Linked DNA regions of Homo sapiens: regions 2 and 3 are each reported to be linked to region 1. Evidence: microRNA targets listed by miRTarBase, many of them from high-throughput screens and not tested one by one. Region 1 holds a microRNA gene; each other region holds the end of a gene's coding sequence.
What was found. Region 1 holds the annotated microRNA hsa-miR-32-3p (CAAUUUAGUGUGUGUGAUAUUU, at 1,445-1,466, shown strand). A microRNA usually pairs through its seed, bases 2 to 8, with sites in the 3' UTR of a target mRNA and lowers its output. Matches are read on the target gene's strand: a 7mer-m8 pairs with bases 2 to 8, a 7mer-A1 pairs with bases 2 to 7 and ends in A, and an 8mer does both.

Region 1 (3,151 bases):
CTATTTTCACATCACAGCTTTTGAATTTTCTCTTGTTCTGCTTTCTTACAGCAGACCATCCTCTAAATGTCTGTCACCTTTTTTCATACCAAATATGCCACCTTTTTTGTTTTAAACTTAATTCCTAGCTGTTGTGTTTGCCAGTCAGTGGTAAGTAAAGCTGTTAGTCACACCTAGGTTCAGCTGATTGAAAGCACATACTCTGTTACACCATGATGCCTTCTTTCAAGAGGAGCTGGTTAGGGAAGATCATGACTTATATTTGTGGACATAAGAGGGTGGCATTTAGAAATTCAGGTCTTTGGCTCAGGAGAGAATTTGAGATTACAAAGAGTGCTGTCATCTACAGCGATATGAGGAAATCAGTCTTTTACAAATTAGATTCGACTTCCCTTCTTGGGAGTGCATACACTAATTATGTATTATAACAGTAGCTTATGTCTTGGTTCCATAGTATACTGGCATTTAAAAACCATTTGTTTTATTATCACCTTATTTTAAATACAGAAAAAATTTTAACAACCTTTGGTACCAGAACTATAATCTAATGGTTCTCAGAATTGATAGATTTTTATGAGTCTGATAAATATGGTACAGACTAAAGAATGGGTTATGGCCTGAGACATTTTTCTAACCAAAGCTATATCAAGTTATGTAATTTTAAGGCTATAATTCAAGGTGTTTTTTTTGCAGTTTAAGTTCCTAGGGCTGTTTCTTTACTGGCTCAAATTCAAGACTTAAAATGTACAGATTTTACAGAGATTCCTCTGAAGAGCTTTCTCCTGTGGAGAAGATGGTAGTGAGTTCTCTTTCTAAGAGCTCCTGTTGGATTTTTCATCCTGAAGGTTTGTGTTGAAGAGGCAATATGTTTCTTCATGGAAAAAGATTTTGAGGGAAAAATAAGTGGTTATTTATAATTTATGAATGACTATGAAAATATTGTAATGTCCTCAAAGTGCAGTTTAGCCTACAAATATCAGTGATACCAACTTTTATAAGCATCAGTCATTAATCATCATCTATGTTGCAGCTAAGTGGAAATCATTACATTCATTTATATGATCTGTGAATAAGTCAAAAATGGAATTGAAATTGGGGGTTAATTGCATGACCAGACAGTGATAGTGTCTGTTCGTGAAGCTTTGCCTTCTGAAGTATGTGGTTTCTTTATGATCACTATCTCATTGAAGTTTTGAACCTTACTCATTATTTTGATTCTGAATAAGTATTCTTCTCAGTTGAATACATTTGCAATTGGGTTTTCATTTCATGAAGTTTTGAGTCAGTGGCATGCATCCTTTATCCCCAGACCATTTTCCTCTCTTCAGCAGCATGTTGTCTCCTGAATGTATACATCACACCCTTCTTCCCTGATGCTCCCATTCTGCTTGCTCTGGTGGAGATATTGCACATTACTAAGTTGCATGTTGTCACGGCCTCAATGCAATTTAGTGTGTGTGATATTTTCACATGAGTGCATGCACACGGGTATGGCTCTTGCTTGCTGGGATTACAGCTTTTCAGTGCCAGTGGGTGGGTGTCCTGATGAATTAGATAAGACAGTGTGTATGCCATGCGATTCTCATTTGGAAAGTGAACATGCTTCCCATCGGTACCTTCCAATTTTGGAGAATTAAAAGTATTTGGATTAAAAAAAGTCAGCAATGATCATTTAGTAAATCAGTGTTTCCATTTTTTACTTTGAGCAAATGAAATATTTATTACAAATTCTCATTGATTTAAGAGTATAAACAATATTTAAATGTATAAGGAAGAATGTAAAGCTGTAAGAAAATGTATTTTCATTTATTTGAAGAAATCTCTCCCAACACTGGAATAGAGAAGCAGAAATCTCTTATGCATATTTGGGGAAATTAAATTAACTGGAGTTCTTAAATAATAATCAAGACAGTAAAGGTATGCTTAACCTACCTGATGAAAGATTCATCTCATAAACTTAAGTTTCCAAGGTAAATTACCTTAAAAATGTGTCTTTTACTTTCTCATTGTGATGCTTCGAAAACTGCTAAATTCATTTTAGTGGGCTAATAATGGAACTAGTTTTGAAATACACGTTTACTATTTGCCTATGTAATTGAAACAACCCCTTGTTATTTTTTTAGTTAGCATTAGAGTAAGCATCCACAATCACTAGGCATTGTCAAGGACACAAAACCATGTATTACTGTATGAAAATATTGAATTAATATTTACTACTACCATAGCCTCCAGATGATCTATTGTGATGCTGTCATTGTATGTTTCTGTGTTTCACCACTGTTTTGGAGGGTGAGAATGGAAGAATTCCACGTAAGCAGCTCATCCCCTGTGCCCTTCAGCAGCTCGGCCGTTCCCCTCATGCTGGAAATCTAATGTCAGCCAGGTTGCTATATGACACCCTGTGGAGCTGGGTTTCCAGGGCAGATTAATCAAGAAAGGGAAGATGTGACCTCTCAAGGGAGGTTGGGGCTGGGAAGGGGTGGGTAGAGAGAGATTTGTTAAAGGATACAAAAATTACTTAGAAGGCATAAGTTCTAATGTTCTACAGCACTGTAGAATGACTGTAGTTCAACAATAAATTATATCATTTCAAGTAGCTAGAAGGAAGATACAGAATGCTCCCAACAAAAGAAATGAGGCCAGGTACGGTGGCTCACGCCTCAAATCCCAGCACTTTGGGAGGCCAAGGCGGGCAGATCACCTGAGGTCAGGAGTTCAAGACCAGCCTGGCCAACATGGAGAAACCCCATCTCCACTAAAAATACAAAAATTAGCTGGGCTTGGTGGCATGCACCTGTAGTCCTAGCTACTCGGGAGGCTCAGGTGGGAGAATCTCTTGAACCCAGGTGGTGGAGGTTGCAGTGAGCTGTGGTCATGCCACTGTACTGCAGCCTGGGCGACAGTGAGACTCTATCTCAAAAAAAAAAAAAAAAACCAAAATGATAAATGATCAAGATGATGGATATGCCAATTACCCCTATCTGATTACTATACATTATATGTATTGAAACATTATTATGTACCCCATAAATATGTAGAGAGCAGTCAAGGGAGCTGGCGAGTACTTTTCCCACTGGTTATTGTATATACTGTGTCTCTAAAAGCTGACTGGTCTCTCCCACCAGCTCACTTTCTACTTGAGACATACCAT
Region 2 (3,000 bases), not on the chromosome of region 1:
ACTAAATCTCGATTTCTTAAAAATAATTTATTGCTCTTAATAGTCTTTTTATTATTATTCTACAACAGAAGATACTCAAAATTCAGAAAGAAAGACTGTAAACTTTAGTTTGGCGTTCACACAGTTAAAATACCTGCATTTAACCTACAGAACAACAAGAATTAGGCGGATTAAAGATGTGTTACTGTTGTAACGCAGAACCTGTGAACAAGTTCTTTCATTTCATAGTATTTTTATTGCTTTCTATCTACTTAGAAATAAGAAGCCAAAAAATCAAGCAAGCATCCGACAGGACAAACAGTGGATTCACTCAGAACACAATATGCTGGTGATAAATGAATGCAGCTATCAAAATTAGCTGCATTGGCCTGGGGGTGAAATCCATCTTACAAGATCGTGTTGGGCGAGAGAAAGGAAAAGAACAATTGAGTAGTAGGTGTATCATGTCTTCCAGAAAAGTCATGTCAGCCAAACAGTAATCGAATCTCAATTTAGAAACTTGAATACACACTCCAAATGTTACTGAATTCCATTCCAGGGACTCCACACTCAGATGAAATCCTGATGATCAAAATGGAGGTTTTTCTGAAGTTTTTATTAAATTTAGCAGAAGCAATGTCATCAAGAACAACACCATGGTCACGTCAGAGGCCATGCTAGTGCAAGTAGAAACACTGCTTCTGCAAAAGCTGAATTTCCCAAATGAAGCACTTACACTCCAACCTGACAATTGTCATGCATCCTAGGTAGAAAATTTCCACTGGCTTTATTATTTTCATCATCTCATAATTTATAATAAATAGGCTATCTGCAACTGATAAATATGTCTCTTTAGTAAACAAAGGAATGAAATATCAGTATTTATACAGGATGCATAACTGTAAAAAATACAGATAAATACCATCGTCATACTCTGCCAAGGGAAAGAAATACTGGCTTCAAAGATAGTCTTCAGACACACATTAATTATTGTAAAAATCATACTATAATTATTACCTCAGCATTTTGTATCAAATTAAAATCACAAAAATTAAAACAAAACAGCATTTTAAAAAGATTTTTGACTTCTAGTTTCAAAACTACTGTTGATAGAGAAAATAAAAACATTTCTTAATGGTTACCCATTGAGAGACTTTACATAAAATCATGATATCTTCTAGAAAAATTTTAGATGAGAAAATTTCATTCCCCTAACAAATCCAGTGTATAAAACTTCAAAGAAAAACAAGCGACAAGAAAATGTGGAAAAATATCGCAGAAGTGGTTAATACCTTTAGGGGACTAGGATATTTCTTGACAAGATGCTTAGATTGAAGCTCACCTAAGGGATGGATGTGCGGAAAGCATCATTTTGCTCTTGTTGCACTCAACAGACACACACACTGTCTTTTTGTTTTTACAATCAAATATATATAAGCAGTAAGTTCAGCTTCTAAATATGTTAGTGTACAATAATTGTTTCACCTCATAATTACATTTGAATATTCTTGATTAAGAAAAATTTAGCAGTTTTGAAAAGAAGGCTGCATTTACAGTGCATAGCTGTAACAAAAAAGAACATTGTTGTATAGTATATACATAAAATAAAAATACTCCATTTAACATCTGTAAATACTTAACTACATCAGAGAATGTAGCAATTACACTATCTGAACACATCTCAGAGAGTTCTACCCAACTCTCATTAGTAATGTAACCCGGTGTCCGCTCCTCAGAAAGAACCGCTGAACAAGCTGCACGCTTGACCATTGACAAGGCTTTTGAAATTTGCAGTGGAAGATCAACATTTTGGACATTTACATGGGTGTCAGGATTAAGGATGAACTACAGAAACTTCAAAATGTTAGGAAACTTTAGCATTCTGGTGCCCGCAGTATCCTCTCCCACCCAGATTCCATGGCAAAAGGAAAAAGAAAAAAAAAAGAGAGAGAGAGAGAGAGAGAGAGAGACAGGATATTAGTTCTATGGAACCTGTGGTTTCTTCAGGATTGTCATATAATCATTACGTTATGAGAGAAAGCTTGCTTCAAGTTGATTCTGCACTTTCTTAAAAAAACAGAGTACAAAGGCTGATGCCCAGACATCAGCGGCTGTCATTTTAGGGTGGTTTGTGGTTGGTTGGTTGGTTGGTTGGTTGTTAGTTTTCTTTCCTTTTTAATTTATATATATATATATATATATATATATATATATATATATTTCCTTTTGAATAGAATACGAACATTTTGAAGTTCTAGGTTTTAAGCGTGTCTTCATGGAACTGCTGCCATTTGAAATGGTTTGCCCTTGCGCATTCTGGTCAGGTGCCCCCAGTCCTCACATGTACCCACACATACTTCCCCTAAACCAAGCACACACACCACACACATACATACACACACACATACATGCACACACGCACACTCCATCACCAAGAGACTCCAGGAAAAGCAAAGCTGACACCCATGAATAAACATGTGCTTACTGGATATCATTCTGTCTCTTGCCTCTTCAGCAGCTGTGTTCATGTAAACCATTGTTGTTATTGTTGTTGTTGTTCTTGTTGTATTGTTGTTGTTTTGTTTTGTTTTTGTACAGAGAGTGTAAAGTAGGAGAAATTCCTAAGTATGACTTGCAATAGTCTTTAGGGAAGGACGCGCTGTCCCATGAGGTATTCGCCATCCCTCTGTCATCCTCAGCTAGGGAACATGTTACCTGCGCAAGCTTCTCTGAGCTTCTTTCAGTAAACTATCAAAATCCAGAGAGTCATACTTGCTCTTGGTGGAAGCAGGGTCAAAGTCATCTGAGTTTGAATCTGAAAAAAAACACAAGCCAGTTTAGATACACACTTTGCTGATGGCCATTAACTCAATCATTCCAATTCAAGATTACTGGATTCGATAACAACTCTTCCAATCAATATACTTTAGAAAACAATAGTCAGATTTTATTGGATATATATGGATATATAGGAAGAGGATGGGGAGTAGTGAGCTTTCAAAAACACGCACCTGTTGACTC
Region 3 (3,000 bases), not on the chromosome of region 1:
GCCTTTACATATGTTCTCTTCCAAGCAATAAGAACCCTAGGAAAGTTCTAGAAGTTTGCAGAACTATCTCAGGGATTTGAGACAAAGATGGTGCAGGAAAGCTTGTTCCAGGGGAACATCATTAGAAACATACCCTGGGAGGGCCGGGTTCGGTGGCTCACGCCTGTGATCCCAGCACTTTGGGAGGCCGAGGCAGGCGGATCACAAGGTTAGGAGATCGAGACCATCCTGGCTAACACGGTGAAACCCCGTCTCTACTAAAAATATATAAAAAAAATAGCTGGGCGTGGTGGCGGGCGCCCATAGTCCCAGCTGCTTGGGAGGCTGAGGCAGGAGAATGGCTTGAACCCAGGAGGCGGAGCTTGCAGTGAGCTGAGATTGCACCACTATACTCCAGCCTGGGCAACAGAGTGAGACTCCGTCTCAAAAAAAAAAAAAAAAAAAAAAGTACCCTGGGAGATGAGTTGGTTCAAGCCTCCATCCTGGCAAGGGCCAGAATTTCCCAGAATCCCTTCTACATATATACAGAAGGAACCAGAAAAAATCAACCTACCACCTTTCCCAGTGTATCCTCAGAATCAAGCCAAGAAGCTTCTTGGATTTTAGTCTCAAGATAAGTTGTGTTTAAAAGGCACATTTTGGTATAAATTATTAGCTCATCAGATATTGTTCACTTTGGAATTAAAGCTAGATCTCCTTTGAAGTCTTAATGTATTGCCTCTGTTGTCCAAGCTCAAACCCAACCAAGTTAAGATCAAGAGCTGAGGAATCTGGCTGGGTGCAGTGACTCACTGCCTGTTATCCCAATACTTTGGGAGGCTGAGGCAGACAGATCACTTGAGGTCAGGAGTTTGAGACCAGCGTGGCCAACGCAGTGAAGCCGTCTCTACTAAAAGTACAGAAATGAACCAGGTGTTGTAGCAGGTGCCTGTAATCCCAGCTACTCAGGAGGCTGAGACAGGAGAATCACTTGAACCCGGGAGGTGGAGGTTGCAGTGAGCAGACACTGCCACTGCACTCCAGCCCGGGTGACAGAGGGAGACCCTGTCTCAAAAAATAAATAAAAGAGCTGAGGAATCTATCTTGGCAACCTAGATTCTATGAGTTTTCAGTATTTCTCCACATAGAACATTGGAGAAACTAAAGGTCATCCTCAACGTATACAAATTGCTATACCAGAACCTTTTCTTCAAGCCAAACTTTAGAGCAAGTTAGGAGAATCAATAGTTCCCTCATTTCTAAGTTTAGGTCCGAAATTCCAAAATTTGTAAGAGGTTGGAGTAAAATGATGAAAAGTTGAACATCTGGAATGGAATTCATGAAATGATCAAGTCTTAGGCTTGTACTCCTGCCTTTATTTCAAAGCGTCATCAAAGGAAACAGAGCAGCAGCAGCACCTAGCTGAATTCTAGATGGGATATAAATAAAATATATATAGAAGAAATCTAAAAACAAGCTAAGTAAAGAATCCTTGCAGTGAGGTGTAATGCAACTTCATCACTTTATTCAAATCTTCAAAATAGTCTTTATTCTACATTTTTAGTATAAAAATTCCACAAGTTAAGTGCACCACAGTGTAGAGAGAGACATACAACGCTGAACTTCCATAACAGTCAATGGTACAGTCAAACATCACATGTACAGAACACACAATTTAGATGAACTGAAATTATAAGATAAAATAAAATAAAATCCAATTTCAGAAAACAAAAATCAAAACATTAAGGATCCCTGAAATATTCTTAAACCCTAATGAGATTTCACTGGACTCAAGTCATTTTGTAGTGAGACATTCACAATATGACCCTATTAACCCAGTCTAGGAATTCTGGGGAGCCGAATGAGTGGCCGCATCAGACACTCTGACAAAAAATGGTAACCAGTTTTTGATCTGAAAACTCCTCTTAATTTAGCTCTGAACACATCAATCAAGCTTTTGAAATGCATCCTCCTCCTTGCCCCTCATATTTTAAACCAACTGTTGTTCACAGTACAGTTTGCACGACATCTTTGTTCAAACATAGCTCAGTTTTTCTGGCACCAAAGCAAATTTGGGTTAGGTTCGTGTATGCAGAGACAACCTATGAGGAGGGCCCATAAGGCACCCTCCACTTTTGCCTGAGGAGATACGAAAGCAGAAGTAATGGCATCTGTACTTGGGGCACAGAGAGGGTTTCAGAGGATCCTTGTGAAACACTAGTTAAAAGATGACGAGTGGGGAGAAGTGCGAGGAAAGAAGGAAATTAGTCTGACTGGCTTTCTGTCCTGCACCATTGATTCAATGGAGACTGGCGGGAGGAAATGGAAGACTAGGGTTGGAGATGGGATGGGTGGGGCAAGGGATGGAAAGGAAAAGGCAGACAACTAATGCGTTCCATTTATAACAAGTAATATATATCAAAGACTTAAAGGAGATTAAAGACCAATCAGAATAATTTGGCAACTTTAATTCTTAGGAAGATCAAAGTTCCCTCCAAACCTAATTTGATGTTTTATTACTAAAAGCAAAGACCAGTATGGTACAGTATTACTCCAGAGAAATTAAAGGAAAATCCTTAGGGCGGCTTCACCCACATTCATTTTATGAATGGATACCTCCCCTACCTCAAAATGCTTTAGGGAGGTACTGCTACCATTACATGGTTCCTTATTAAATTTGAAAAGTGCCTGAAAGTTTGGGCACCAGAAAGACACCCCAACAACATGTGTCTAAACTGCAACTTCAGGTTAATATGACTAAAGCAGTTACATTGTGAGAAGTGCTGAAGGTATGTGATGTCTTTCCCGGCACAGAGGTGGCCTTGGTTCCTCACCAGATGGTGTAGCCACCATCTGAACCACCCATGAAGAAGTTCCCCTTCCGCTGAGTTACGAGGACGTTGGCTCCCTGCATGACTGCAAGCTGAGCAGCATTGGGAGGGCATCCAGGAGGTGGAGGCTGAAAGGAAATGACATGATAGAATGGGCACAGGGCAGCTAATATAAGCGAAGGGGACATAG

Region 2: the mRNA of PPARGC1A is a reported target of hsa-miR-32-3p. Seed matches in the 3' UTR shown: 7mer-A1 at 2,156-2,162, 7mer-m8 at 1,500-1,506, 7mer-A1 at 787-793, 7mer-m8 at 601-607, 7mer-m8 at 489-495 and 7mer-A1 at 24-30.
Region 3: the mRNA of DAZAP2 is a reported target of hsa-miR-32-3p. Seed matches in the 3' UTR shown: 8mer at 1,906-1,913 and 7mer-m8 at 1,652-1,658.

Annotation. Positions count from the first base shown.
Region 1 is chr9:109,044,546-109,047,696 of GRCh38, reverse strand. It overlaps MIR32 (microRNA 32), which reads left to right and starts at 1,399; the gene lies at 1,399-1,468. All of the region lies in intron 14 of TMEM245 (transmembrane protein 245), which reads left to right.
Region 2 is chr4:23,793,132-23,796,131 of GRCh38, forward strand. It overlaps PPARGC1A (PPARG coactivator 1 alpha), which reads right to left. Exons shown (of 13, transcript NM_013261.5): 13 at 1-2,794. The coding sequence ends at 2,691. Among named protein-coding and RNA genes, the nearest start is that of PPARGC1A-AS1, 26 kb to the left of the region's middle.
Region 3 is chr12:51,242,268-51,245,267 of GRCh38, reverse strand. It overlaps DAZAP2 (DAZ associated protein 2), which reads right to left. Exons shown (of 4, transcript NM_014764.4): 4 at 1,335-2,938. The coding sequence ends at 2,810. It overlaps SMAGP (small cell adhesion glycoprotein), which reads left to right. Exons shown (of 4, transcript NM_001031628.2): 4 at 1-710. Among named protein-coding and RNA genes, the nearest start is that of DAZAP2, 4.9 kb to the right of the region's middle.